2 separate regions of the Homo sapiens genome follow, and region 1 is linked to region 2. Evidence: fine-mapped QTL for protein levels in blood plasma. Region 2 holds a variant in brackets. A gene starts in the other region. All regions are shown on their forward strands.

Region 1 (12,350 bases), not on the chromosome of region 2:
CTAGGATCCAGACCTCAATCAAACTTAACCCTCCTGACCCTTGACCTTAACCCTGAACCATTAGCCATAAGCCAAACTCAACCTTGACCTGAGCAGTGAATGTCACCATAGCCTGAGTATCAAGCCTGCCACGGGATAATTCAGACATTAGTCTCCATTCCCATCATATTCTAGGAAGCCCACATTCATATCCTCCCCCATGAACCCATTCCCTCACATCCAACACCAATTCTAACACTCTCACCCCATCCCACCCCTATTCTCATCCTCAACCCAATTGCTACCTAAAATCCCATTCTCATTTCCATCCCCAATTCTTTTCCCAGTTCCATTTTTATTTCTCCAGCTCACCACACAACTTTGACTCTTCATTTTACAAAAACTCTAAAATAAAGTCTGCCAACGAATATCTTGCTAACATTGATGCTATACTAACTCAACTCAAGCCGAGTCCCAAAATCTTCTGAGACATTTACTGTCATCGAATCCAAAATCAGATCCCCGAACTTGGACATCTAGCCCTGCCCATTCCACAGCAGCAATCTGGTCGTGAAGGGTGTCAACATTCCTGACCTGGGCTCCCAAATCAAGGAGAAGCAGACTCCAGCCCAGTTGACCTCACAGCTCCATGATTCAGCAATCTGTATCTTTCCTTCCTGGCTTCTCAAAGACAGAAATGGTAGCAAGACTTCCAGTGTATTATCTACTCCCTGCATCTTCATCCTTAGATTCTCTCCTCCCTCAGTCCTCTGCCTCCTTAGTATCTGTTAGAAAGAGGAAGGAGCCAGGCTACTCTAGAGCCCTGTTATTCACTCCTAAGTCACCAAAACGTCTATCCTCTGCTTTTCATCATCTATCATTCTGTAAATTATATTCCTAATTATTTAACCTGATTTTGTTGCCAAACACTGGTCATCACAAGCAGAGGAAATGTGTGTGGGGTTCTTTTTTTTTTTCCAGCACCCCGCCCAGACCGGAGAACACAGGAGGTACTTAAATAAATACTAGTCTGCAAACTTCTGGCATCCACAGGTCCACAGGCCTTAGATTCAGTCCTGCCTTGATCCCTGAGCTGTTCCACCATGCAGTGTGACAGAAAGAACTAGAAAGAACTTGGACTTTCAACCCAGCTTTGAATCCTGGTTGCCCACCCTGTGACTTCGGGTAAGTGACTTCATTTTTCTGAGTCAGACTTTGCCCCTCCCCAAAGTGGAGGAGAGCAAAACCTATTTACCGAGGCAAATGAGAGGATTAAATAAAATTATGAATGGAAAATTGATGGGCACATAACAGCCAGTGAATTAACATGAGTTCCCTCAGCCCATCACCCACGGAATGAAGAAGCAGCTCCCATTTTCCCCCCTACATTTAGTGTGGTGTGTCTGTATTCCTCACATTGGTCCAGGTGAGGATTGTCATCCCCATTTTACCTTTATTTTTTGCCGCCTGCCCCATCATCCCCATTTTATAGATGAGAAAATGGAGGTTTAAAAAAGGCTAGATCACTTGAGCAAAGTCACAGAGCTGAGGAGTCAGAAGTGTCAGAATTCAGCCAGGCGTGGTGGCTAAAGCCTGTAATCCCAACACTTTGGGAGGCCGAAGTGGATGGATCACTTGAGGTCAGGAGTTCGAGACCAGCCTGGCAAACATGGTGAAACCCCATCTCTACTAAAAATACAAAAAATTAGTCGGATGTGGTGGCATGTGCCTATACTCCCAGCTACTCAGGAGGCTGAGACAGGAGAATCACTTAAGCCAGTAAGCAGAGGTTGCAGTGAGCCGAGGTTGCACCACTGCACTCCAGCCTGGGTGACAGGGCAAGACTCCATCTCAGGAAAAAAAAAAAAAAAAAAGCCAGAATTTGAACATTGGGATTCAAAGGCCTATGGTATCACTACTGCACAAATCCATACTCTGAGAAGGAAATTTCCTTGTTACATCCACATGTACCCTCTGAGTCTCATTTGGTTCAAAACAGACTTGGATCGCCCTCAGCCTATTAATGATGCATACCCCCATGTCAGAGAGAGGCCCATATCCAGGCCCCCTGTGCCCTTTGCATTTAGTCCTGGCACCTGTTGCTAAGTGTCATCCAGACACCCAGCCCCATACCTCCATCGTCCTCAGACCTATGTCCTGAACCTTTGTTAAATGACTCATCTTCCACCTTATGATCACACCTGAGAACTGGCATCTGATAATCTTGCCAGCTATGCCTTTCCCTGAGGGATTCTGAACACTGTGACCCTCGTACCTCCTGACTCAGCCCATGGGTTCTGATGGCCCATTGTTTCATACTTCCTGGATTCTCTTCCTCCTTATTTCTTTCTTTCTTTCTTTTTTTTTTTTTTTTTTTTTTTTTTTTTTTTTTGAGACAGAGTCTCACTCTGTCACCCAGGCTGGAGTTCAGTGGTGCGACCTCAGCTCACTGCAACCTCCACCTTCCGGCAGAACCCCATTTCTTTTGGGGGAGATGCTGCCTTATTTCTTATAGTTCTGGTGAAACTGTCAATCGTAGTTCTCCAACTCCACCCACCCACTGAGGCGGAGAAATGACCCAGGCCAAGTCAACAAGATCAGTGTTTTCTCTCTGGCAACAATGATAGATTCAAGGGGTGGGCCCAGTTCAAACTGGACCAATTAGAGTTCCTCCCTGGGATTAATATCAAGATGCCAGGAGAAAGGAGATTTTTGTTTCTGTTAGTAGCTGCTATGTTCCCTCCATGCCCCTCCTTAGTACCTAAGATTGAGTAAATCAATCCCCAAGTCTTTTCAGGCTTATGTTCCACTGGAGACATTAAAGTATCTCCTGGACCAGCCTAGGCAACATGGTAGAGTCCTAGCTCTACTGAAAAAAAAAAAAAAATGGCTGGGCGTGGTGGCACATGCCTGTGGTCCCAGCTACTCAGGAGGCTGAGGTGGGAGGATGGCTGAAACCCAGGAGGTAGAAACTGCCTTAAGCATTGTTTGTGCAATGCTCACTGTACTGTAACCTGGGTGACAGAGTAAGACCTTGTCTCAAAAAGGAAAAAAATCTCCTTGGCATTGGATGATACTAAGAAAGTATCAACTGTGTAAGGTGTGATAATGTAAGTTGGTTATGTTTAAAACGAGTCTCTTTTGGAACAAGGATTGGCAAATTTTTAAAATAAAGGGCCAGAGAGTAAATATTTTAGCTTATGTGGACCAAGAGAGAAAAATGGAAGATATTATGTAGATATTTAATAGCAGGAAAGAAAATAAAATTTCACAATTTTTAATTGATGAAATTCAAAATGTAGTAATGATAATTTAGTACAAATTTTTTGTTGCTATTCCTTATCAAGCTCACGCCTGTAATCCCAGCACTTTTGGAGGTGGAGGCAGGCAGATCACTTGAGGTCGGGAGTTCAAGACCAGCCTGACCAACATAGAGAAACCTTGTCTCTACTGAAAATACAAAAAATTTTAGCCGGGCGTGATGGTGCATGCTTGTAATCCCAGCTACTCAGGAGACTGAAGCAGGAGAATTGCTTGAGCCAGGGAGGCGGAGGTTGCGGTGAGCCGAGATCACGCCATTGCACTCCAGCCTGGGCAACAAGAGCGAAACTCCATCTCAAAAAAAAAAAAAAAAAAAAAAAATTTAGCTCAGGAGATTTGGTCCAACAGCTGTAATTTGCCATCCCCTGTTTTAAAAATGCATAATAAAATATTTAAGAATGAGATGTTGTGGTGACTGAGATTGCTTCAAAATATTCTGGCATTAGGGAAGTGTGTGGTGGGAGTATAGGTGAAACAATAATTGGTTTTGCATTAACTTTTTTTTTGAGATAGGGTCTCACTCTGTTACCCAGGCTGGAGTGCAGTGGTACAATCATAGCTCATTGCAGTCTCAACCTCTCAGGCTCAAGTGATCCTCCCACCTCAGCCTCCTGAGTAGCTGGGACCACAGACGCATGCCACCATGCCCAGCTAATTTTTTAATCTTTTGTAGAGACCAGTCTCCCTATGTTGCCCAGACTGGTCTTGAATGCCTGGGCTCAAGCAATCCTCGTGCCTCGGCCTTTCAAAGTGCTGGGGTTACAGGCGTGAGCCACTGCACCGGACCTTGCATTCATTATCGAAGTTGGATGGTGGTATATGAAGACACATTATGTTATTCTATTTTGCATGTGTTTGAAATTTTCCATAATAAAAATTATAAAACAATTCTTTGAGTTGAGATGTCCCCCCCAGAAATGCATCCCTGGCATCAGAAGTTTAATGCCATGCTTGAAAGACTTCCTCAGGATTTCTGGTATGGGGGAACTGTCATAAAGCATCAGGGAGATTGATGAATGCAAGGTATCTCACACACCCACGCCCCTTGTGGAGAATTGCCTTCCCATAGCACTAAGTGGCCATGTTTCATATCACATGACTCCAAGTAGCCACTGATTGGCTAAGATTTGGTCACCTGACTGGGATGCCATCAAATGATTGGCCATTCAGTGACCAATGATGTGGCTGAAGAAGAAAAGGTGAGCTAGATGAATCAGATTCTCTTTCATGAGACTATTTTCTAAAGATCCTAGTGAAGGAGGAGGCGGGGTTTAACTCTGGACTAGATTGAAGACAGCTGGAACAGGGAAAAGGCACCAAAAGCACATCTCCATAAGACGTGCACACCAGCACCATGACAGTTTGCCACTGCCATGACAACACCCAAAATTTATCAGCCCTTTTCTAGAAATTTCTGAATAACCCACCCCTTAATTTGCATGTAATTGAAAATGGGACTAAATATGACTACAGAACTGGCCCTGAGCTGCTACTTTGTGCTCAATGCCTATGGGGTAGCCCTGCTCTGCAAAGAGCAGTACCTCTGCTACTGTGCAGTACTGTTTCAAGAAAAGTCACTAACACCACTGGGTTGCCCTTGAATTATTTCCTGGACAAAGCCAGGAACCCTCCCTGGCTAAGCTCCAGTTTTGGGCCCACCTGGCCTGCACCACTAGAAGAGTGACTATATCCTTGTAATAACTACCCCCTCCACACTCATCTTTCCCTAAAACAAGTTATGTTAAGCCTTTGCTTTAATGAAAACTTTCCCAAATGCCCTTTGCGTCACACTTCAATTTGGACACACCACTCATTTCCTTCTACCACAGCAGACACCACCAGATGGCTCTAGGCTGTGAGAAAGAGTTCTATCTGGATTTTTGGGAGCTCTCAAGATTTTTGACCCGAGTGGTGGTTTCATGGTTGTTCATTTGTGAATATTTAAGCTGTTCATATATTTTCTGCACTCTTTTCTATGCATATCTCCCAATGTTTTCCCTTTTCTTCTTTTTTTCTTTTTTTTTAAATAAAAATAGAGATGAGGTCTTACATTGTTGCCCAGGCTGGTCTTGAACTCCTGGGCTCAAGTGATCCTCCCACCTCAGCCTGTGAAAGTGCTGGAATTACAAGCATGAGCCACCATACCTGGCACAATTATTATTATTAATTTATTTGTTTATTTATTTTGAGACCGAGTCTTGCTCTTGTCACCCAGGCTGGAGTACAATGGCATGATCCCTGGCTCACTGCAACCTCCGCCTCCTGGGTTCAAGCGATTCTTCTGCCTCAGCCTCCTGAGTAGCTGAGTTTACAGATGCCCACCACCACACCCTGCTAATTTTTGTATTTTTAGTAGAGACGGGGTTTTGCCATGTTGGCCAGGCTGGTCTCGAACTCCTAACCGCAGGTGATCCATCCGCTTCGGCCTCCCAAAGTGCTGAAATTACAGGCTTGAGCCACCGCACCTGGCCAATTATTTTTTAAAGGGGGAAAATTTTATCTCCAAAGCTTGTAAATGCTTTGCTCAGGAAAACTAAACACAAACTCTTTCAAAACTGTCTTTCACATACCAGCCCACTGAATGTTTGAAGACCTTTGTATGTATTTTCTCCCCTGAAATAAAGCTCTTACCCAAGTTCTTCCAGAAAACGAGGGATCACTTTAGGCAGTGGTGATGGCCAAAGTGACCATGAGAACTTGGTTTCTGCACATCCCCACCTAGTCTGCCAGCAGGAACAATCCCGGATCCCCATCCAGCCCTCCCCACAGGGCCAAAACAGAGACAGGCAAGGAACCAGAGAGTTGTGAGTTTATTAAGGGAGATCTAGTGCTTATCCTAGAATCAGCCCTTGCTGCCTATGATCTTCTTGATCCAGTCCAGGTAGCGGCAGATGTTGGTATAGACGCCAGGTTTGTCGGACCTCCCACAGGGGTCTGAGCCCCAGGATGTGATGCCCTGGAGTGCACCATCACACACCAGGGGGCCTCCAGAATCGCCCTAGACAGGGAGAATGAGAACAGCCTTGCATCTGAGATGTCCACAACGTCCCTTTTCCTGCTGTCCCAGCGTTTTACCAGTTCTTTGGCATGATTGGTCCCCTGTAGCCAATGGGGGTAAAAGCATTGTCCCCTGAGACCAGTCAGGACAGGGCTTGGGGCTTCCATGTACAGACAGACATGGTGTCTAAGGGTAGTGGTCAAAACACTGACAGAAGAGGGGAAAGAATGAAATCCCAGACAGGCTTGGTGGCTCACACCTGCAATCCCGGCACTTTGGGAGGCCGAGGCGGTAGATCACTTGAAGTCAGGCGTTCCAGACCAGCCTGGCCAACATGGTGAATCCCTGTCTCTACTAAAAATACAAAAACTAGCTGGGTGTGGTGGTGCACACCTGTAATCACAGCTACTCGGGAGGCTGAGGTGGGAGAATTGCTTGAACTGGGAGGCAGAGGCTGCAGTGAGCCAAGATTGTGCCACTGCATTCCAGCTTGGGGGACAGAGCGAGACCCTGTCTCAAAAAAAAAAAAAAAAGAGTTCTCGAGGGTCCAATCCAGGGAGAAGACAGTAGGGATTACTTGGAGAGGACTGAGCTGAAGTTTCCTCTGTTCCTGGCCAATAGTGAAGGCATCATTGATTGCAGTTGCCAAACATAGGAGAAAGGATCAAGATTCTTATGGACACACACACACACACACACACACACACACACACACACACACACACCATATCCCCAAGAGACCATGGCTGAAATATTTGTGGAAGAGACCACTATCTCTACAGAACAATCCAGAGACTGGCTTTCATGGCAGTATCGCTGATGGAAACGACTCCATTTTTGGCCAATGGGGAAGAAAGCATTGTATTTAGGGACCAGTCATTGGCAAAGGTGGTGGGGCTTCCAGGAAGTGGACAAAGCCAGGGGAAAGTGCTAGGAACAACGAAGTTGCAGTTAGAAGAGAGAGTTATATCTATGACAAATCCCAAGAGAAAGGGATTGGAGCTCATTGAGGAAGCACTGAAGTCAATGGCACCATTTACTCCAGCCAACTGGGAAGACACCATTGTCTCCCAAGGAACCAATCACAGGAGAAGGGAACCAGCCTTGGGATTCTAGCCCGGTCTCAAAGAAAAGTGGCTGACCACCGGGCCGGTGGTAAAGTCGGCACAAATTCCACGATGTAATGCTGGGAACCAGAGAGCAGGCAACTCGTCTAAACTCTAGCCTCAGACTCTCTCCTTGCTGGACATCTACCCCACCCTCTATAGCCCCCAACTCTGCATCCCATCCTGTAGTTAAGCGTTCGAAAGAAAACAGCAGCAGCAATTCAATGCTCCTAATCCCTATGCAGTGTGACTTTCAGAGAGAGAGTTTGGCTTCTCTGAACCTGGCTCCCAATCCGTAGAGATAGGGGTGAACACTCCGGGTGCCAAGTCTTTGGGGTCACTCCCTTACCACCCCCACCCCCATCCAAGCCTTGAACCTCGAGAGGGCAATGAGGGATGTGTGAGGAGAAGGATTTCAGAAATTGCTCACCTGGCACGTGTCAGCCCCTTTGCTGCTGCCTGCACAGACCATGCCATCTGTGATCTGCCCCGGGTAAGCATCCTCACACTTCTTCTGGGGAAAGATTTTTACTTCTGCACAGTTGAGAGTGTCAGGAAAATTCTCTGAGGGGGAAGAGGTTGTAAGGTTCCCTGAGAGAGCAGCCCTTTGCCTCCATCCCTGTCTGGATCTAACCCCCTTTCTTTCCAGGATGTAATGGGGGAGTTTTCCAGCTGCATGGGGGAATTTTCTGACACTGTGCACAGGGGACATCACTTCTCACCACATTAAACGAAGCTGTACTTGTTGCTATTGGGCTTTCTCCATCTAGAGAGGGGCCCTTGGATCTCACGTGTTTTTTCTTACCCTGAGCCATTTTCAAATCAAGGGGCTGGGGGTTACTTGGAGGTGCCCCTTTATGATACCTCTGACCCTCTCTTTCCAGTCTTCCTGCCCTCAGACAACCGGGTCCTCAATCTGTGCTAAATCCTGCTCCTTCCAAGTGTCACCTCCTCCTGGAAGCCTTCCCTGACCACTCGAATTAAAAAATACCATCCCTCCATTACTCCCTATCCTTTTACGCTCCACAATATTTCCTTACAGCACTTTGCCTAATGTTTTATTTTATGTGTATTTGTTTATTGTCTATTTCTCCCACCTAGCTTGCAACTCCATAACGACAAGGACTTTGTACAGTTTGCTCATGGCTGTATATCCAGCGCCTGCAACAGCACCTCAGGCATACTAGGTGCTCAGTAAATAAGAGTTGAATTAATGATTGAAGGTGGAATTGATCTTTTTTATTAACCTCTTTTGAGGAATAGACTTCTCCAAAGCCTCTTTGAGGGGGAAAAACTTCCATCTGGCATCTCTACGTGCCAAAAGCAATATGCTCATAATCTCATTTAATCCTCACAACAGCGCTTTGAAGGAGAGATGCATTCATTCATTTCATTATTTATTCATCAGGTCATCCATTCAACAAATATTTATTGAGCATCTACCATGTAGCAGGCACCATTCTGAGCACTAGGAGAACACAATGAAGAAAACTGATGTAACCTGAACCCTCACGTAGCTAAAAAATCTATTGGTTAATGATTCCCATTTTGCAGATAAGGAAAGTGAGGCTCAGAGATGGAAAGGAATTTGCCCAGGGAGAAAGGGCAGAGCCATAGTTTGAACTGATCTACTTGATTTGCGAGCACGTGTGTTTCCACAGCCGCAAACTGTCTCATCCAAAGCATTCAGAGCAGGAGTGAGGCAGGCAGGGACCTGAATGCTGACTTTGCCACTTCCTGGAGAAGCTCCTTGACTCTCTTAGGTGAGTCCCAATGTTTTCACTGTGAAGGAAGGCGAGGGGCTCTCTGGATTCTGGAGTCCCAAAGGGACAGCTTCATTGGAGGTCCAGATTTTGGGGTCCAGAGTCAAGAGGGAGCTAGGACTGCTGGGTCCTGGGAGAAGAAGGGCCTAGACTCCCGGGTCTGAGGGAAGAGGTGACCAGGGCCCAGGTTTCCTGGGTTCAAGAAGGAGAAAAAGGCCAGGGGCGGTGGCTCATGCTTGTAATCCCAGCACTTTGGTAGGCCGAGGCGGGCAGATCACTTGAGGTCAGGAGTTCGAGACCAGCCTGGTCAACATGGCGAAACCCTGTCTCTACAACAAATACAAAAATTAGCTCGCGTGGTGGCGGGTGCCTGTAATCCCAGCTACTCGGGAGGCTGAGGTTCGAGAATCGCTTAAACCCAGGAGGCAGAGATTGTAGTGAGCTGAGATTGTGCCACTGCACTCCAGCCTGGGCGATTGAGTGAAACTGTGTCCCCCTGCAAAAAAAAAAAAAAAAAAAAAAAAAAAAAAAAAAAAAAAAAGGAGGGAGGTGGGGGAGAAGGTGCTTAGGAGCCTGTTTTCCTGGGCCTCTGAGAAGTCCAAATATCCCAAGTGTGTTAAGATTATATAAAATCCTATACAACCAAAGGTCCCATAGGGTAGTGCTCTCCGCCATACAGGATGGGCTTTTCTGGCCCTGCTTAACAATCTGCTAGTTGGTTCTTTCTCTCACCACTCTTGTTAGTAGTCAGATCTTCGAGGCTTCTCATATGACTCCTGCTTGTGAATCTCAACATCATGATCACTTTCCCTTCTTTGTCTCCCTCTGGGGGACCAAGCTTTGCCAATAGCTTGGGTTCCACTGGGCCAACCAGCTCCTCCTCTCCCTCCCATTAGTGGACAAGCCCACTACCTCGGGGACTGGTGACAGTGCCCCAGCCTGAGACGGTGCACTTCTGGCCAGGCTGGGTGCAATGATCTGCCAGGCTGATGGGCTTCACTTTGGACCCCAGGGATGCCTGGTCACGCAGTTGAAGAAGCATCAGATCATGGTTGTGGTCCTCCACATCGCTGCTGTTGTAGCAGGGGTGTGGGATGGACTGAACCACAGGTATTTCTTGCTCTGGGCCATCTTTATTCTGTAGGCTGTGGTCTCCCAGGCGTACTGTGTATTTCCTGTAATGGTGGGGATAGTTTGGGACCCAGGCAGGGGTATTGCCCCCAGCCCCCTCCTCCTTCAGACCCAGGAGTCCAGTCCTCAGCTCTCTCCTTCCTGAGTCGAAACCCCAGCCCCCTCTTTCCTTAAGCCCCAGCTGACCTCTGCCCCCATCATCCACTCACGGTTTTTTACAGTGGGCAGCTGTAAGGACCCAGTTGCCACCTACAAGGACACCGCCACAGAGTAGTTGCTGGCCCTGGAACAAGGCCGCCTGCCAAGGCTGCGAATGGGGTTGGCACTCATGACCCCCCAGCACCTTGTCCTCCTGTGCCCTGGAGTGTCCTGCAGCAGGAGGGAGAGGGTTGGATCGCCACCCTCTGGGGCAGTGCGAGGGCTGGGAAGGCCACTGTGGGTTCAAATGGACACACGGCAAGTTCTCCGCATACAACTTAGTGAGGAGGTCCAGGCTTCCACACGCTGCCACACGGGGACACTCATTTCAGTCCATGTGTCATCATACAAGAGTCACACACCCAAGAATGCCCCCACATGCTTCCACATGAGTCTACAGGCCCCGAGTACTCCCAGGTGAATCTATGCCCCCAAGCAAGCAGCCCCCAAAGGCTGTAGCTATTCAGACAATTTACAGCATCACGGAACCTACTCCTACCTGCTGCTACCTGTTTCTTGCCTCTGTCCACCCTGAGGAAAGCCCACAGAGGCTCCTGCACCGTATCGCACTCTTCACATCCGTGCACACGCACCCACATAACCCCCGCGGCATTCCCACAGACTCCCCAGCGCCACTGCTGCCTTCAGATCCCTCCCCTCCGGAGGCCTCCGCAACCCTCCTCACCTGCCCAGGCTCCCCCCAGCAAGAGCAGGAACATCCACGTCTTGGCCGCACGAGGTCGGGGGCGTCCCATGGTGAGGTCTGGGAAATGGAGAGGGCGGGGCCGGTAAACAGGAAGGAGGAGCCTGAGCTCCCAGTTCTGGATTTGGGCACTGGGGAGGCAGCCGAGAGTATCTGGGGCTGTTCTGGGCTTCTCTGGAGGAAGGAGGAGGCTGGGGGACTGGATTCCTACATTCCAAGGGAGGGGGGAGTCCTCGATGTCTGGGTCTGAGGGGACAGGGAGCTGGGAGCTGGGACTCCTAAATTAGGGAGAGGAGGAAGCCGGGGTCCAGACTGCTGGATCTCGACAGAGAAGGGCATCTGAGGCTGGGGTCCTGGAATCTGGAGAAGGAGGGTCCGGGGCCTGATGTCTGTATCTGAGTACCTCTGCACCTCACCTTCCAGAATCCAGGGGCGGGGTCACCTACTGATTCGGACCCAGTGGAGGAGGCCCCAGTACTTCAGTTCTCTGCCTGGTACACGATTCTGGAGCCTTTTAACTGGGAATCTCCACCTCCTGCTCCTCCTCCTTCTCCTCCTGCACTAGAGCCTGGGGAGCTTCTGGGAACTGGAACACTGGGTGTGAGTGAGAAGGGGCGGAGGGGATTGAACGTGAAATCTTGAGGGAGGAGGGGCTGGAATCTCAGACTCCTGAGGCTAGGGAGAGGAGGGACTCGGTGCTGAGACTCTACGATCTGAAACATAAAGGGCTGGGGGCCAAGATTTTAGTTCTGAGAGGGGAGGAGGCTGGGGGCCTGGATTCCTGGGTCTGAGGGAGGAGAGGCTGGGGGCCTGGACTCCTAAATCTAAGGGAGGAGGGACTGGGACCTGGGATTTAGGTCTGACCGAGGAGGGGCTGGGGGCCCAGACTCCTGGGTCTGAGGGAGGAGGGGGCTGCTAGGGGCCAGGACTCCTGGGTCTGAGGGAGGAGGGGCTAGGGGCCTGGATTCCTGGGTGTGAGGGAGGAGAGAGCTGGGGGCTGAATTCTAAGTACTTTTAAAAGGAGAAGCTTGGAACCTGATCTTTTGTGGGAGGAGGGGGCTGCTGCCAGTAACCGGGAACCGAAGAAAGGCAGGTCTTCTAGGGTCAGAAACCAGAGGGTGGATCAGGCCCCGCCCGCTGTCCCCTGAGAG
Region 2 (16,874 bases):
ATTACAAAGTTAGAGTTTCAGTAGGATTTTTGAAGTAACTACCTCCTCACCTTAACCGAAACTAGACTTTTCCTGAATGATACTACTTTTCAGCAGTTCCAAGTACAGGTTACACATTCTCCCTCTGTTGTGTTGTGGCTAGAGGTGCGTTGAACATGATTTTGTTGCTCACCACTGTGGCTTCTTTCAATAAACACTCCTTCATTGATGCACATACATTCCACCCTCTTTCCATCCTTACTTTTTCCTTGACTGATCTCCTTCCCCTATAACCACATAATCTTCAGTGAAGACTTTGGCAACTGTCTATTTCTTTCCACCCTAGCTATTATAATCATTCTGGAAAACTTCAACAGTCATGTTGGTGATGCATCTGGATCCATCATTTCTTACACTCTATTGATCTCTACCTCCACTCTACCTCAGCCAGCTATTCAAATGACCACCCCCTGGACCTTGTCATCAACCATAACTGCTCCACCTCTGAAGCTGTGAACCCTGAAATGTCACTCATTGATCACACAGAATGGCCTTTTAGCTCTCCTACTCTTAAGTTCCCACTAAGCCTGTTCTTAAAAAATAGTCTTTTTATTTTTATCTTGAGTAATTGCATGGCTACCATCTAGAGCTGACAGTAGTAAACTTTTTGTTGTATTTGCTTCAGGTCTTATTAAAATGAATAAAACATTGCAGGTAAATTTAAGTCTCCTGTGTTTCTCACCCCCAAGTTCTAATCTTTTTTTTTTCTTATCAGAAGTACCACCAAAATTAATTTGGTAAATATGTGTGATGTATGTGTATAAATATATGTGTATATATATGTATAAAATATGTAACTACATTTTAAAATTTATGTAATGTAGTGTACATATTAATAGTTTGCAACTTGATTTTCACTCAAAGTTATTATGTTTTTAAAATCTATGTGTATATATAATAGTTATTTTCTTCTAGGTGCACTGTAGCTTTCCAATATAAGAATATAGTATACTTTATCCATTTTCCAAATTCACTATTACAAACAATGCTGTATTAAACACCCTTGTAAATGTCTTCCCAAACAAAATAGGTCAGTGTAGTGCCATGGCTAAGGTAGCACCACAGCTAGACTATATGGCACCTTTGTGTGAATAAGAAAGACTTCCTCTTTTTATGGACCTAGTCCTCTGAGCTCACAGCTTGGCAAATAGAAAGTGCCTGGGGCAAAGATAAAAGTACTGAGGTGGATGTAGCTTTTAACTAGGTATGCATGGATTATTAACTGGGACATGGATTGGATTTCTGTGCCAACTTGCTTCCTCTTGGCACCACTGGGACAGTGAATGAATTGCATAGCCACATGTGGTGCCCTGGGTTAAGAACAAAAACTTTAGAGTCTCATTGCTTGGTTTCAGTAGCAGCTATGTGACCATAGCAAATTACTTAACCTCTGTGCCTCATCAGTAAAATGGTGATCTGGAATGGTCTATCTCCTAGGGTAATTGAGAGAGTTATACATAGTAGTGCTTAGTGCATAGTATGTTTTATATAACTATTAGATATTATTATCACAAATATAGATAAACCTTGGAGATATTGCAGGTTCAGTTCCAGACTACTGCATTAGAGAGAATATTGCAATAAAGTGAGTTACATGAATTGTTTGGTTTCCCAGTGTGTATAAATGTGTGTTTACACTGTAGAGTAGTCTCTATTGAGTGCTCAATAGCATTATGTCTAAAAAAGTATACATTCCTTCATTGAAAATACTTCAATGCTAAAAAATGCTAATGAACCTTCAGCAAGTTGTAATCTTTTTTCTGGTGAAGGGTCTTGCCTTGATGTTGATGGCTGCTGGCTGATGAGGGTGGTGGTTGCTGAAGGTTAGGGTGGCTGTGGCAATTTCTTAAAGGAAGACAACAGTGAAGGTTCCTGTGTTGACTGACTCTTCCTTTCACGAGAGATTTCTCTCTAACATGCAGTGCTGTTTGATACAGTTTTACCCACAGTATAATTTCTTTCAAAATTGGTCAATCCTCTCAAACCCTGCCACTGCTTTATCAACTAAGTTTATGGAATATCATAACAGTGTTCATAGCATCTTCACCAGGTGTAGATTCCATCTCAAGAAATCACTTTCTTTGCTCATTCATAACCAACTTCTCATCTGTTTAAGTTTTATCATGAGATTGTAGCAATTAAGTCTTTAGGCTCTACTTTTTAAAAAAAAATTTTTAATCAATTTGTTTTTATTGTTTTTTATTTGACTTTTAAGTTCTGGGGTATGTGTCCATGATGTGCAGTTTGTTACCTAGGTAAATATGTCAGGCTTTACTTCTAATTCTAGTTCTCTTGCTATTTCCACCACATCTGCAGTTACTTCTTCCACTGAAGTCTTGAATCTCTCAAAGTAATCTATTAGGGTTAGAATCAGCTTCTTTCAGACCCCTGTTAATATTGATATTTTGACTTCTCTGTGAATCGTGGATGTTCTTAATGACTTCTAGAATGGATAATCCTTTCCAGAAGATTTTCAATTTTCCTTACTCAGATCCATCAGAGGAATCACTATTTATGGCAGCTGTAATCTTCCAAAATGTATTTCTTAAATAAGAAGACTTGAAAATTGAAATCACTCCTTGATCCATGGGCTGCAGAATGGATGTTGTGTTAGCAGGCACAGGAAAAACATCGTTGTACATTTTTATCCGAGCTGTTGGATGACCAGGTGCATTGTCAATGAGCAGTAATATTTTGAAAGGAATCTCTTTTTTCTGAGTAGTAGGTCTCAACAGGGGGCTTAAATAGTTAGTAAACCATGCTGTAAACAGATGTGCCATCATCCAGGCTTTGCTGTTCCATTTATACAGCACAGAGTAGATTTAGCATGATTCTTAAGGGCCCTAGGATTTTCAGAATGGTAAATGAGCATCGGCTTCAACTTAAAGTCACCAACTGCATTAGTCCCTTACAAGAGAGTCAGCCTGTCCTTTGAAGCTTTGAAGCCAGAGAATTGACATCTCTGTAGCTATAAAAGTCTTAGGTGACATCTTCCTCTGATAGAATGCTGTGTTATCTACATTGAAAATCTGTTGTTTAGTGTAGCCACCTTCATCAATTATCTTAGCTAGATCTACTGGATAACTTGCTGCAGCTTCTCCATCAGCATGTGCTGCTTCACCCTGCACTTTTATATTCTGGAGATGGCTTATTTCCTTAAACCTCATGAACCAACCTCCGCTAGCTTCAAACGTTTCTTCTGTAACTTCCTTACCTCTCTCAGCTTTCATAGAATTGAAGAGAGTTAGGGCCTTACTCTAGATTAGGCTTTGGTTTAAGATAATGGTGTGGCAGGTTTGATCTATCTAGATCACTAAAACTTTCTCCAAGTCAGTGGTAAAGCTGTTTTGCTTTCTTATCATTCATGTGTTCACAGGAGTAGCACTTTTAATTTTCTTTAAGAATTTTTCATTTGCATTCACAAACTTGGCTAACTGGCACAAAAGGCCTAGCTTTTGGCCTCTCTCTGCTTTTGACATGCTTTTCTCACTAAGTTTAATCTTATTTATTTATTTATTTATTTATTTTTGAGATGGAGTCTCGCTCTGTCGCCCAGGCTGGAGTGCAGTGGCATGATCTCGGCTCACTGCAACCTCTGCCTCCCAGGTTCAATCAATTCTCCTGTGTCAGCCTCCCGAGTAGCTGGGACTACAGGTGCCTGCCACCACGCCTGGTAAATTTTTGTATTTTTAGTAGAGACAGGGTTTCACCATATTGATTAGGCTGGTCTTGAACTCCTGACCTCAGGTGATCTGCCTGCCTTGGCCTCCCAAAGTGCTGGGATTACAGGTGTGAGCCACCGTGCCCAGCTCTTATTTTTTATTTAAAGTGAGAGACATGTGGCTGTGCCTGGTGGCTCATGCCTGTAATCCCAGCACTTTGGGAGGTCGAGATAGGTGGATCACTTGAGGCCAGGAGTTCGAGACTAGCCTAGGTAACATAATGATATCCCATTTCTACAAAAAATTTAAAAATTAGAAGGGCATGGTTGTCTGTACCTGTAATCCCAGTACTTGGGAGGCTGAGGCATAAGAATCGCTTGAACCCGGGAGGCAGAGGTTGCAGTGAGCCGAGATCTTGCCACTGCACTCTATCGTGGGCAATAGAGTGATACTCTGTCTCAAATAAATAAATAAATAAATAAATAAATAAATAAATAAATAAAATAAAGTGAGAGACATGTGACTCTTCCATTCACTGAAACACTTAGAAGCCATTGTCTGGTTACTAACTGGCGTAATTTCAATATTGTATCTTAGGGAATAGATAGGCCTGACTAGAGGGAGAAAGAAAGGGGAGCAGCTGATCACTGGAGCAGTAAGAACACTCATTTATCGATTAAACTCTCTGTTTCATATAGGAAAGGTTTGTGGTGCCCTCAACAATTACAAGTGTAACAGCAAAGATCACTTATTACAGATCACCATAGCAGATATAATAATAGTGAAAAAGTTTGAAATATTGTGAGAATTACCACAATGTGACACAGAAACATGAAGGGAGCACATGCTGTTGGAAAAATGGTGCCGATGGACTTGCCAGACAGGGTTGCCTCAAACCTTCAATTTGTACAACACACAGTCTGTGAAGCACAATAAAGTGGAGCACAATAAAATGAAGTATGTCTGCATGCAAACTCCTCTGAGGTATACGAGTAGGAGTAGAACTGCTGGTAGACAGGGTATGCACATTTCAAAGAAATCTGTTCCTTATCCTGTCTCTATTTTTTCAGTCTGCCAGTCCCCTTCCTGCCTTCTTTCATATCTATCTAGGATTCCATCATCACACTTTTGAAGTTGTGGGCCTCAATCATGTTATAATGCATTGTGATTGTTGTCAGCAATTGGTAAGCATCTCAAAAAAGAACAAACCAAGTCACCCAGATCACTCCCCAAAGTGGGCAGAAGAGAAAAGGATTGGGTTAAAGGTTGCAATAACAGTGACCCCCTCCTGCCAGGCATGATGAATCTTCCTATCTAGACAAACTTGCTTTAATCTCCTTTTGTTTCCCACTCTACTTCCTTTGAGAGATGTCAGAGATAATGATGGTGAGTGGGCTAAATTCACTTTCTTCCTCTCACTTCCTTCTCCACTTGGCTCTTAGCTTCACCTCCACTACTCCCCATGCACACATGCCTTCAGATATAATATTTACAGCTACTTATTGCCTTTTATTTGCTGTGCTCTCACTGCTAATTATCCTACATTATGTTTCATTCTCTTTGGTTTTGTTGCCAAGAAATATCCCTATATCCTTACTCCCTGCCATCCCTTGCTCTTAGAAATCTGGTTTTCCTTTAATGATGCTGTTTTCCTTTTTCTGTGAAGTGGAGCCTGGCTGTTCTGGTGAAGTCACTGTGGGCTAGTAGATTGAGAATGAGTTCATAGTCACACTTGAGTTCAAATCTGAACTACATCATAGGTGAGCTGTGTGTCCTTGGATTTATAACCTCAATTTGCATACTGAGGAGAAGTTTAAGGATCTCTGCATCAAAGAGTTATTGTGAAGGCAAAAAAGGGGTAAGTAATGAGACATTGGTACATAGCTCCTAGTATATTCCATATTGTTAGTTTTATTTTACCTGAAAAGTTGCTACTGCTAACAAGGCCCATCTTTCCTACAATAATGGAGTCGAGAGTGTAAGGTCTTGCCTAGGGGAAATTTGGCTATAAAATTATCCGTCCCTTCACACACATATAGTTTGGGCCAAGGAGGGGGCCTGTAAGGGAGCAATTCCCAACCTTTTTGGCAGCAGGGACTGGTTTCATGGAAGTCAACTATTCCATGGATGGGAGAACAGTGGGGGTGGGATGGTTTAGGGATGAAACTGTTCCATCTTGGATTATCAGGCATTAGATTCTCATAAGGCACATGCAACCTAGATCCCTCCTGGTGTAGTTCACAATAGGGTTCGTGTTCCTATGAGAATCTAATGCAGCTGCTGATCTGACAGGAGGCGAAGTTCAGGCAGTAATGCACGGTGGGCTGCCACTCACCTACTGCTGTGTGGCCTGGTTACTAACAGGCCACAGACTAGTACTAGTCTGTAGCCCAGGGGTTGGGGACCCCTGCTGTAAGGGTTTCTGGTTTTTCCTCCCATACCTATAACCTTCTCTACAGACCATTATGTGTCCTTGGACCCTTCATTTTTCCTTGTACCTGCCCTGCCAGTCTCAAACCTGGGATTAACCTAATTCCATTTTTTTTTTTTTTTGGCTTCTTCTGCCAGGCTGTTAAGATGGCAAATATCACATACATGGTGCCTTAGCTTATTTCTACACATTTATTATATTAACCTTGCCCACACTCTGAATATTGCCTGGCAATCCCTTTCATCATACCTAGGTGGTTTCTTTTACCAGACCCCTCAGCTGGAATTTTCAGACCTTTCCCTTTTCAGATCTTTCTAAGCCTCCTGCTTCACTCCCTCCCCATCTTCCTTTTAGTAGATCACTTTACTTCCTTCTTTGTTAAGATTGGGAAGTGATTCAAAAAGAATGAGGAGTCAGGCTACCAAGATTACAGTTAGTCTATTCATGTGGATGAAAAAATTTCCTCCATATCATTATCATACTTGTAGGTGTCAGTGTTGCAAAAGTCAGGGATGAAGTTGTTTACATTAGAGAGTTAGCAATTTATAGGAAAGGGCTCAAGGCTTCATTGATTTGGAAGACTAGGTAGAATCTTCTTCCTCATTTTTAGCTTATCTCAGGGTTGTAAAGATTTTTGTTTTTCCTCTCCAATGGTGCGACTTTATATGCTTAGTCATAATGGTGGTTGGGCAAGGAGTCAGTTTTGTTGTCTCCATAGGGGCCAACGGATGTGAATTCTCCTAACTTTGTTTCTAAAAGGAATCAACTAGGTCATGGACCACTAACATACAGATTCCTGGGTCCCATCTACTAGAAATTTGGATTTAGTTGATCTGGGATAGAGGCCATCAGTTTGCTTTTTAAATAATTACCATAGGTGATTCTGATGCAGCTCATCCTAGGAACCTCTTTTAAAAACATGGAGGTAATTGTATTTTTGCTGAATTTTAATCTCCTTTTTGTTTCAAGAGTATATGAGGTATTCTTTTCCTTTCCAAGACTGATTTCTCTATGTGTATATTTGATTCAATTTCTGTCATTCCTTCTAGGTCCTTGATCCAACAACGATTCCTTTCTCTGTATCAACAGATTCTTACTTTCTATAAATCACCTTCCACTTGACTTAGAACTGTTATTCACATTCAGTAAATTTTTATTGCATGCTGCCTGTGTTTCCAGCATATATTTTAATTTCTTCCTTTATAAAGGATTTTTCTTTCTTCCTTGCCTACTCTCTTATTTCCTCTTTACTACAAACTTTTTAAAGAATCTTTTCACACTGATATTTAATAAGAATTATAACAACAAGTAGTAATAAAGATAGCCACTAATATTTATTAGATGATTACTGTGGACCAGACACTTTTCTAAGTACACTATATATATTAACTATGTAGCAGACAGTTCACAAATTAATTAAAAATATATATATTAGGATCTGTTTCTGGGCTATTTATTGTTATATTGATCTGTATTATCTACTCTTCTGCCAATATGCTATCTGGCAGAAGAGTATTTATAATAACTTTATAAAATGCATTTTATCTTCCATTACTTAGTGAAATTCCCTCTCTTTGGGTTCTAGAACACCATTTTCTCTGCCTCTCCTCCAACTTTGATTCATCTTTATCAGTGTCCTTCACTGACCTTTCTTCTCCGCCTCCTTCATGTGATTCTATTTAAAGCCCTTTACAGCCTGCCTCCAACTTGCTTTTCCAGCTGCAGTTCCTGATACTGGTTTTTCTACATGCTTCAGCCAAAGACATATACTCTTTGATCCCTGAGAACACTATTTCCTCAGTGTCTTTGCACATGGAGTTCACTTCTCTGCTTGTGAAGTCTATGAATATTGCATGGCTGATTTGTCACAATTTTAAGTCTTCAACATCTGGAGTGTTCTGGCAAGAATTTGTAGGTAAGGACAAACCAAGGTGGGTGGTGATGCTCAGGAGCCCTTTGTTTCTAGGGTAGAGCACACAGAGTCAGGGAGTCTGAGAGAACAGGAGGGGTAGAGGAAGAGGGCTGAGACAGGCTATTGAAGGAATTGGGTATCAGATACTTATCTTTCAAAAGATACCAGACTGTGTGTGATTGTTTATTATTAGTCCCTGGTGACCTACAAAGTAAGGCATGCATTAAGGAGGTCAAGTCAGAAAATGCCACCCTCTGGAATTGAAACTAATGAGAACTGTTAAATGTGATGAAATAAATAAAATGTGAAGAGATGAGTTATCTGCAGCAGGAGTCCACCCTTGGAAATTAAGTGCTGCTAATGAGCAGGGTGTTCCTCAAGTCTCTCTCAAGACATTAAGTTTGGTTGCATTGAAGCAGGAAAGGGGGAGTCTGAGGATGAGTACTAGTTGGTGTGTCTCCAGCAGTGTCCAGAAGAGTGGATTGCACCAGTCCTAGTTGTTTGACTGTAGTTGTTTAGAGAAAAATATTACTGAAGCACAAGACAGTGTTATGTTAGCAAACACATATGTTTTGGAGTTAGACAGATTTAGGTATAAAACCTGACTTTACTAATATAATATA[C/T]TTGACCTTTTAAAGTCTCAGTTTGCTCTTCAGTAAAATAACATTTATAACCACAGGGTTGCTATGAGAATGAAATTAAACAATAAATAAATATATGTCAAGTATATAGCACATAATGTAATGTTCCCAGTTCATAAGATGTTCAATAACAATGCTGCTTTTGTATTTTTCTATCCCTTTTAGGAAAAATTTTTGAATCATCAGATTACCATAGCACAACCTTGGAGAATAAAACTCTTTTGCTCTGAAGCTCATCTAATAACCTGATATCTCTCAAATGAATCTATCCAATGACAGGGAATACCCCATGTTAAACAGCTGATTCTTGTTCTGAATACGTTTATTATCTTGTAGTTAGTAAATAAATCAATTGGACCCTTAAGACTTTGCTTAGAGTGAATCTGTCTCCCAGAGCTTGATCACATTTGAATGTACAGACAAAAACTAACAAAAGTGAGATCCATCTGGGGATGAGGTATTGGGATTCTGTAAGATCCTGCCTGAAACAGCCCACCTCTTTCTCTTTTCTTATTTTAGCTGTAACATTATGGTTCTTAAGTTTCTAGAGTCATAACAAGGAAAAGAGAAACATTGTGAAAAACTTGGCTTAACTATATAACTAAGCATTTATTGGGAATTTGTTTGCTTTCTCTTATTAGAAAAATTTTCTTGCCCCTTACCCCTTGGAAGGCAAAGAATAAGGTTGGGGTGTTGCCCAGAAAAAGGGTCAGGGTTTGGTTCTCATTCTTATATACCCAGAAATGCACTCATATCAGTGCCCCAGAGTTGATCAGACTCAGGAAAACTGTTTCATTGTAACTGAACTCATCAGGGACTGAAGTATAAAAACCAGAGTGCCATTTTATTAATTTACAGTCAGAAATGCATTATCAGAAACACTGGGTATTTATATTAATCTTGCTGATGAATGCTTTCTCCTTTTGGGAAAATTATGGAAAGCCAAATTTTCTTTTTTTAAAAAATTTTATTATTATTATACTTTAAGTTTTAGGGTCCATGTGCACAACGTGCAGGTTTGTTACATATGTATACATGTGCCATGTTACTGTGCTGCATCCATTAACTCGTCATTTAGCATTAGGTATATCTCCTAATGCTATCCCTCCCCTCTACCCCCACCCCACAGCAGTCCCCAGTGTGTGATGTTCCCCTTCCTGTGTCCAAGTGTTCTCATTGTTCAATTCCCACCTATGAGTGAGAATATGCGGTGTTTGGTTTTTTGTCCTTGCAATAGTTTGCTGAGAATGATGGTTTCCAGCTTCATCCATGTCCCTACAAAGGACATGAACTCATCATTTTTTATGGCTGCATAGTATTCCATGGTGTATATGTGCCACATTTTCTTAATCCAGTCTATCATTGATGGACATTTGGGTTGGTTCCAAGTCTTTGCTATTGTAAATAGTGCCGCAGTAAACATAATGTGTATGTGTGTCTTTATAGCAGCATGATTTATAATCCTTTGGGTATATACCCAGTAATGGGATGGCTGGGTCAAATGGTATTTCTAGTTCTAGATCCCTGAGGAATCGCCACACTGACTTCCACAATGGTTGAACTAGTTTACAGTTCCACCAGCAGTGTAAAAGTGTTCCTATTTCTCCACATCCTCTCCAGCACCTGTTGTTTCCTGACTTTTTAATGATTGCCATTCTAACTGGTGTGAGATGGTATCTCATTGTGGTTTTGATTTGCATTTCTCTGATGGCCACTGATGATGAGCATTTTTTCATGTGTTTTTTGGCTGCATAAATGTCTTCTTTTGAGAAGTGTCTGTTCATATCCTTCACCCACTTTTTGATGGGGTTGTTTTTTTTTTTCTTGTAAATTTGTTTGAGTTCATTGTAGATTCTGGATATTAGCCCTTTGTCAGATGAGTAGGTTGCAAAAATTTTCTCCCATTCTGTAGGTTGCCTATTCACTCTGATGGTAGTTTCTTTTGCTGTGCAGAAGCTCTTTAGTTTAATTAGATCCCATTTGTCAATTTTGAGAAAGCCAAATTTTCTAGAAGGCCCCTTGGTGTGTTTGAAGTCTGTGGCAGAGGGTGTGTTGTGTGGTTCAGCTGATGAATATCATTAGGCACTCATGTGGTGAGACATTTATTTAAAAGACTAGGACATGCTGGACCAGATACACCAGTGGACTAGCTTGTCAGAACACTCTCCCTTGAGCAGTCCTTGATGGGCATTCTAACATTGTTCTTTGTGTTCTCCTTTTTCTTACAAAATAATTTAAGATTTACAAGTAAGTGTAGATTTACAAGTCAGTGAATGATATAATGAATACCATCTTCTTAAGAAAACTTTTGGTATTGTTTACTCGATCTCAGTTCCATTTTCTTCCATCCTTCCAGAGGTACACACTGTCTTGAATTTGCTGTTTATCATTCCCATAAAGATTTTTACATTTACCAAATATGTATTAACCACAAACAATATATGGTATTGTTATGTATATTGTAAACCTATATAAATGGTATCACACCATGTATACTTGTTTTGCAACCTTTTCACTTGGCATTACACTTTTGGAATTTGTCCATGTTGATATATACGTACCTGTAGCTCATGAATTTTAACTGCTATATAGCATTTTAGTGTGTGGGTATATTACAATTTATCCATTCTTCTATTGAACTTTTAGGTTGTTTGTAACATTTTGCTGTTACAGACTTGTCTGTGGTTGCCAGATTTCCTCTTAATTAGGTATCAGTTCAGACTCCTGCTGCTCAGTATCCTCCCGACACTGGATATTGCCAGACTTTAGTTTTTTTCTGATCCGATGGGTATGAAATGAATTTCATTGTGTTTTAATTATCTATTTCCCTGAGCATTGTTTTAAAAATGTCACTTTGCCATTCAGATTACCTTTGGTGAATTTTCTTTTTATAAGTTTTGCTGTTTCTTTTTAATTTTTAATTTTTATAAATTTTGGTGAATTTTCTAAGTTTTGCTGTTTTTTAAATTTTTAATTTTTATAAGTTATTTACATAATCCGGCTATTGATCATCTGTTGTTTATAGGCATTTCAAAAATGTTCTTGGACTCTGTGGTTTGTCCTTTTTACTTTTTGAGATTGTCTTTGGATTTACAGACATTTGTAATTTAATTATAGTAAAAGTCATGAGTCTTTCCTTGGTGGTTTGTATATTTCTTGTTTAAAGAATCTGCACTTATTTCAAAGTCATAAAGATATTCTCCTATATTTTCTTTAAAAATTTTTAAAAGTTTGGCTTATCACAGTTAGGTTTTTATTTACTTGGAAGTGATTTTTGTAAATGGTGTGAAATAGAGATAATTTTTTTCCTATGGAAAATTTATTACCTTGGCACCATTTATTGAAAGAGTTGCCTCTCTCCACTGATAAGCAAAACCACTGCTCTTGTATATCAAGTATGCATGGATCTGTTTCTGGAGTCACATTGCTCTGTATATCTGTTCCTACAACAATACTGCACTGTTTTAAATCATATAACTTTGTAATATATTTTGATATCTGATGAGATGAAACTCCTCCCCTTCTGTATCTTGGTGGCTCACATAATGCCAGCACTTTGGGAGGCCGAGGCGGGCAGATCACCTGAGGTCAGGAGTTCGAGACCAGCCTGGCCAACATGGTGAAACCCTGCCTACTAAAAATACAAACATTAGCTGGATGTGGTGCTGCCTGCCTGTAATCCCAGGAGACTGAGGCAGGGGAATCACTTGCACCCACGAGATGGAGGTTGCAGTGAGCCGATATTGTGCCACTGTACTCCAGCCTGGGCAACAGAGTGAGACTGTCTCAAAACAAAAAACAAAAAACAAAAAACAAAAAAAATTCGTGTGTCAAGTTGCACAGAAAGCCTTTAAACAATCAACTTTATTGAGATATAATTTCCACATAATATGTACGATTATGTAAGTTTTGACAAAAGTATATATATATGTAACTACCATTATAATCTACATATAGATTTATTCCATCACCCTAGAGTGTTCCTTTGTGACTCTTCCAGACAGTTCACAAGTTCTACTCCCAGCCCTAGTCAACCACTGATCTACTTTCTATTTTTATAGATTAGGTTTGTTTTAGTAAGTTTCATATAGATGGAATCATAAATATGTACTCTTTTGTGGATGGCTTCTTTTGATCAACGTGTTTTTGAGATTCATCTGTGTTACATGTATCAGTAGTTTATTCTTTTTTTCCTTGCTAAATAGAATTCCATTGTATAGCCATACCACAATTTGTTTATCCAGTCATCTGTTCGTGGACATTTGGATTGTTTCAAGTTTGGGGCTATTATTAAAGCTGCTATAAACATTCATGTAAAAATCTTCAATGTAGACATACGTTGTCATTTCGCTTGGGAGTGGAATTGCTAGGCCCTATAGTAAAGTACACAATCGTGTTGCTTAACAATGGGGGATATGTTGTGAAAAATGCACCCTTAGGCAAACATCAGAGAGTGTACTTACACAAATATAGATGGTATAGCCAATAAACAACTAGGCTATATGGTATAGATTATTGCTCCTAGGCTACAAACCTATACAGCATGTTACTGTACTGAGTACTGTAGGCAACTAACACAATGGTAAGTGTGCATCTAAATGTATCTAAACATAAAGAAGGTACAGTAAAAATATGGCATAAAAGATAAAAAAGGTACACTTGTATAGGGCACTTACCATGAATAGAGCATGTAGGACTAGAAGTTGCTGTAGGTGTCAGTCAGTGAGTGGTGAGTGAATGGGAAGGCCTAGGACATTACTGTATACTACTGTAGAGTGTGTAAACACTATACACTTGAATTACACTAAATTTATAAAAGAATTTCTTCCTCCAGTAAAAATTAACTTTAGCTTACTGTAAATTTTTAGGTTTATAGACTTTTACATTTTTAAACTTTTTGACTCTCTTAATTAACACCTAGCTTAAAGCACGAACACATTGTATAGCTGAACACAAATATTTTTTTCTTTACATCATTATTCTGTAGGCTTTTTTCTGTTTTAAATTTTTTTAAAAAACTTTTTTTGTTAAAAATTAAAACTAACACTAAAAAGTTTTTGTTAAACCAAGACAAATATCGCCTTCTACCTCCATATGTTGTCTCCCTCTAAGGGCTTCAGGGACAATAAAATGTATGGAGCTGACAGCTCCACATTATTGTGTGTGATTTTGGTGTCATATCAAAAAAATCATTGCCAATACCAGTGTGATGGAATTTTGATCATTTTAAAATGAAGTAGTTTGTCTTATTGAGTTTTAAGAATGCTTTATCTATTCTTCATTGTGAAAAATAGAATATTGGGAAATCGCTGTTTGGTTTGGTTTCTAGGATGACCATCTGTATGTAAGAAGTGAAATGAAGCACAGATGAGAAAAGTCTTAGTATTTAATCAACATTTATTTATTGTCAATTTTAATACAATCCGGTTGTTTGAATCCAAAGACTTGAAACAAATGTGTTACAGTCAAATTAAGGAACTATGTAGCAGTGACAGATACTCTTCCTTTTCATCTGGGCATGGATGATATTTTTTCAGGTGGAAACGTTATTGAACTACAGTAGTAGGTGGAAAGCATTGTATTTCCATGGAATAACTCCTCAATATATTTCCCAATATTGAGCAGCCTCTTAGAAATAGGGAGCAAGATCTTTCTGCTGAAAACAAGCTAAAGCCCACATTTGAATGTTTTTTTTTTTCCTGAAATGATAAATCCCTATTCTTTATGAAATAATGCTCTTGCTCACTGGCTTGGGAAAAGACCCTGATGCTACTTTTTTATGCCACTAATTAACTTACTGATTAAATATATACCCAAGAAAAAGGACTTGATGGTTTTGATAAGTAAAGACACTACCGCTGCTGCATCTTTGCTTTCAGAGCCTTCACCTTCTGCCACAATACCAAAAATTGGGACACACCAAACTTGGGGCACACTAAAAATTAGGGTACACTAATTGCTGTAAAACAAAGCTTTGTATCTAGGACTGGTAATGCATTTGTAATATTTTGCTTCTAAGAAATGTAAGGTTAGCTTTGGCACCATCTATAAATGAATGATGAGCTCTCAAAAAGACAACTCCAACTAAACCCAAAGCTCTTTAAAAGCTTTTCATTATTCCTCAAAGTTTAACCCTCATTCTAACAAGTTATTCCACTCAGTATTTTCTAACAAAGTAGCACAAATGCCTAACAGTCTTTGGAAGGAACCCCATAACAAGATATATGCTACAGTTTTAGGCTCTAAAGAAAGAGACAGAAATGCATTGATTCACTTTTAGAACGAATTTCATGATGGATTGCTTGTCTTTCATGATGAATTCATAGATGACTTTCCTATTTCTTAAATTGCTACTTGAGTAAATTGCATTTATGTTTATTATTCACTGATAAAAGTAGCACCTCTGCTCTTGGACATATTCATAGGGTGAAGTGCTACTAGGAAAACTGAGAAAATATGAGCCAGAACTTCCCCCATCATGGTTACTTCCTCCTTTGCAATAAGAATACCCATCTTGCCCTGAGCCACTTCCATGCTGACTATAACCAGAGGACTGTCCTGAGCCAGACCCATGTTGGCCGTAGCTGGAAGACTGCCCTGAACCAGACCCGTGTCGGCCGTGGCTAAGAGACTGGCCAGATCCAGCCCCATGTCGGCCATAGCCAGAAGACTGACTGGAGCCAGAGCCACGGTGGCCATAGCTGGAAGACTGGCCTGTGCTAGATCCCTCCTGGTCAAAGGTTGATGACTGTCCTGATGTAGAACCATGCTGTCCTTGGCTACAGAAGTGCCCTGAGCCACTACCATGCTGACTGTAAGCAGAGGAATGTCCTGAGCCAGACTCATGTTGACCAAAGACAGAAGAGTGACCCAAGCGAGACTCATATGGGCCACGGCTGGAAGAACGACCTGAGCCAGACCCATGTTGGCCGTGGCTGGAGGAGTGCCCCAAACCGGACCCATGTCGGCCGCGGCTAGGGGACTGGCCAGATCCAGACCCTTGTCGGCCGTGGCCCGAAGACTGACGGGAGCCAGACCCATGCTGACCATAGTGGGAAGACGAACCTGAGCTAGATCCGTGTCGTTCACCCCTAGATGACTGTCCTGATCTAGAGCCGTGTTGTCCGTAGCCAGAGGAGTGACCTGAGCCAGACCCATGCTGACTGTAACTAGAGGACTGCCCTGAGCTAGACTCGTGGTGACCAAAGCCAGAAGACTCGCCTAAGCCAGACCCATGTTGGCCACTGCTGGAAGACCGACCGGAGCCAGACCCATGTCGGCCGTAGCTGGGAGACTGCCTTGACCCAGACCCACGCTGGCCGTGGCCTGGAGACTGGCCAGATCCAGAGCCCTGTCGGCCATAGCCAGAAGACTGACTTGAGCCAGAGCCATGCTGACCGTGGCTGGAAGACTGACCTGAGCTAGCTCCATGTTGGCCACAGCTCGATGACTGTCCTGATGTAGAACCATGTTGCCCATGGGTAGAGGAATGACCTGAGCTAGATCCATGTTGACCGTAGCCAGAGGACTGTCCTGAGCGAGACTCTCGGTGACCTAAGCCAGAAGAGTGACCGGAGCCAGACTCATATGGGCCACGGCTGGAAGACCACCCTGAGCCAGACCCATATGGGCTGTAGCTGGAAGACTGCCCAGAACCAGACCCATGTCGGCCACGGCTAGGGCTAGGAGACTGGCCAGATCCAGACCCATGTTGGCCGTGGCCCAAAGACTGACGGGAGCCAGACCCATGCTGACCATAGCTGGAAGATGAACCTGAGCTAGATCCGTGTCGTTCACCCCTAGATGACTGTCCTGACCTAGAGCCGTGTTGTTCGTAGCTGGAGGAGTGACCTGAGCCAGATCCATGCTGAGTGTAACCAGAGGACTGCCATGAGCTAGACTCGTGGTGACCAAATCCAGAAGACTGACCTGAGCCAGACCCATGTCGGCCACTGCTGGAAGACCAACCGGAGCCAGACCCATGTTGGCCGTAGCTGGAAGAGTGCCCGGAACCGGACCCATGTCGGCCGCGACTAGGAGACTGGCCAGATCCAGAGCCCTGTTGGCCATAGCTAGAAGACTGACTTGAGCCAGAGCCATGCTGACCGTGGCTGGAAGACTGACCTGTGCTAGATCCCTCCTGGTCAAAGGTTGATGACTGTCCTGATGTAGAACCATGCTGTCCTTGG

Alleles and levels. Alleles are on the strand shown, and positions count from the first base shown. The strength of an association depends on the size of the effect and on how common the allele is.
As copies of C replace T in region 2, the plasma level of the protein whose gene starts at base 11,688 in region 1 goes down (weak association).

What was found. A credible set is the group of variants that fine-mapping cannot tell apart. PIP is the chance, under the fine-mapping model, that this variant and not a neighbour inherited with it causes the effect. The UK Biobank Pharma Proteomics Project read protein levels with antibody pairs (Olink). The fine-mapping took linkage between variants from a reference panel, not from the people measured, so its PIPs are less certain.
Region 1: KLK8 starts here. The variant in region 2 is the best candidate, but not a certain one, in a credible set for the plasma level of the KLK8 protein (UK Biobank, PIP 0.83).

The regions. Positions count from the first base shown.
Region 1 is chr19:50,989,917-51,002,266 of GRCh38, forward strand. It overlaps KLK8 (kallikrein related peptidase 8), which reads right to left and starts at 11,688. Exons shown (of 6, transcript NM_007196.4): 1 at 11,616-11,688; 2 at 11,182-11,259; 3 at 10,508-10,667; 4 at 10,080-10,342; 5 at 7,835-7,968; 6 at 6,092-6,298. The coding sequence starts at 11,251. The coding sequence ends at 6,143. RefSeq lists a silencer at 543-743 and an enhancer at 4,297-4,591.
Region 2 is chr1:152,198,009-152,214,882 of GRCh38, forward strand. The region is part of intron 1 of CCDST (cervical cancer associated DHX9 suppressive transcript); the gene reads left to right. HRNR (hornerin) reads right to left here. Exons shown (of 3, transcript NM_001009931.3): 3 at 14,068-16,874. The coding sequence ends at 15,068. Among named protein-coding and RNA genes, the nearest start is that of CCDST, 17 kb to the left of the region's middle. The variant C/T (reference allele first, on the strand shown) is at 8,668.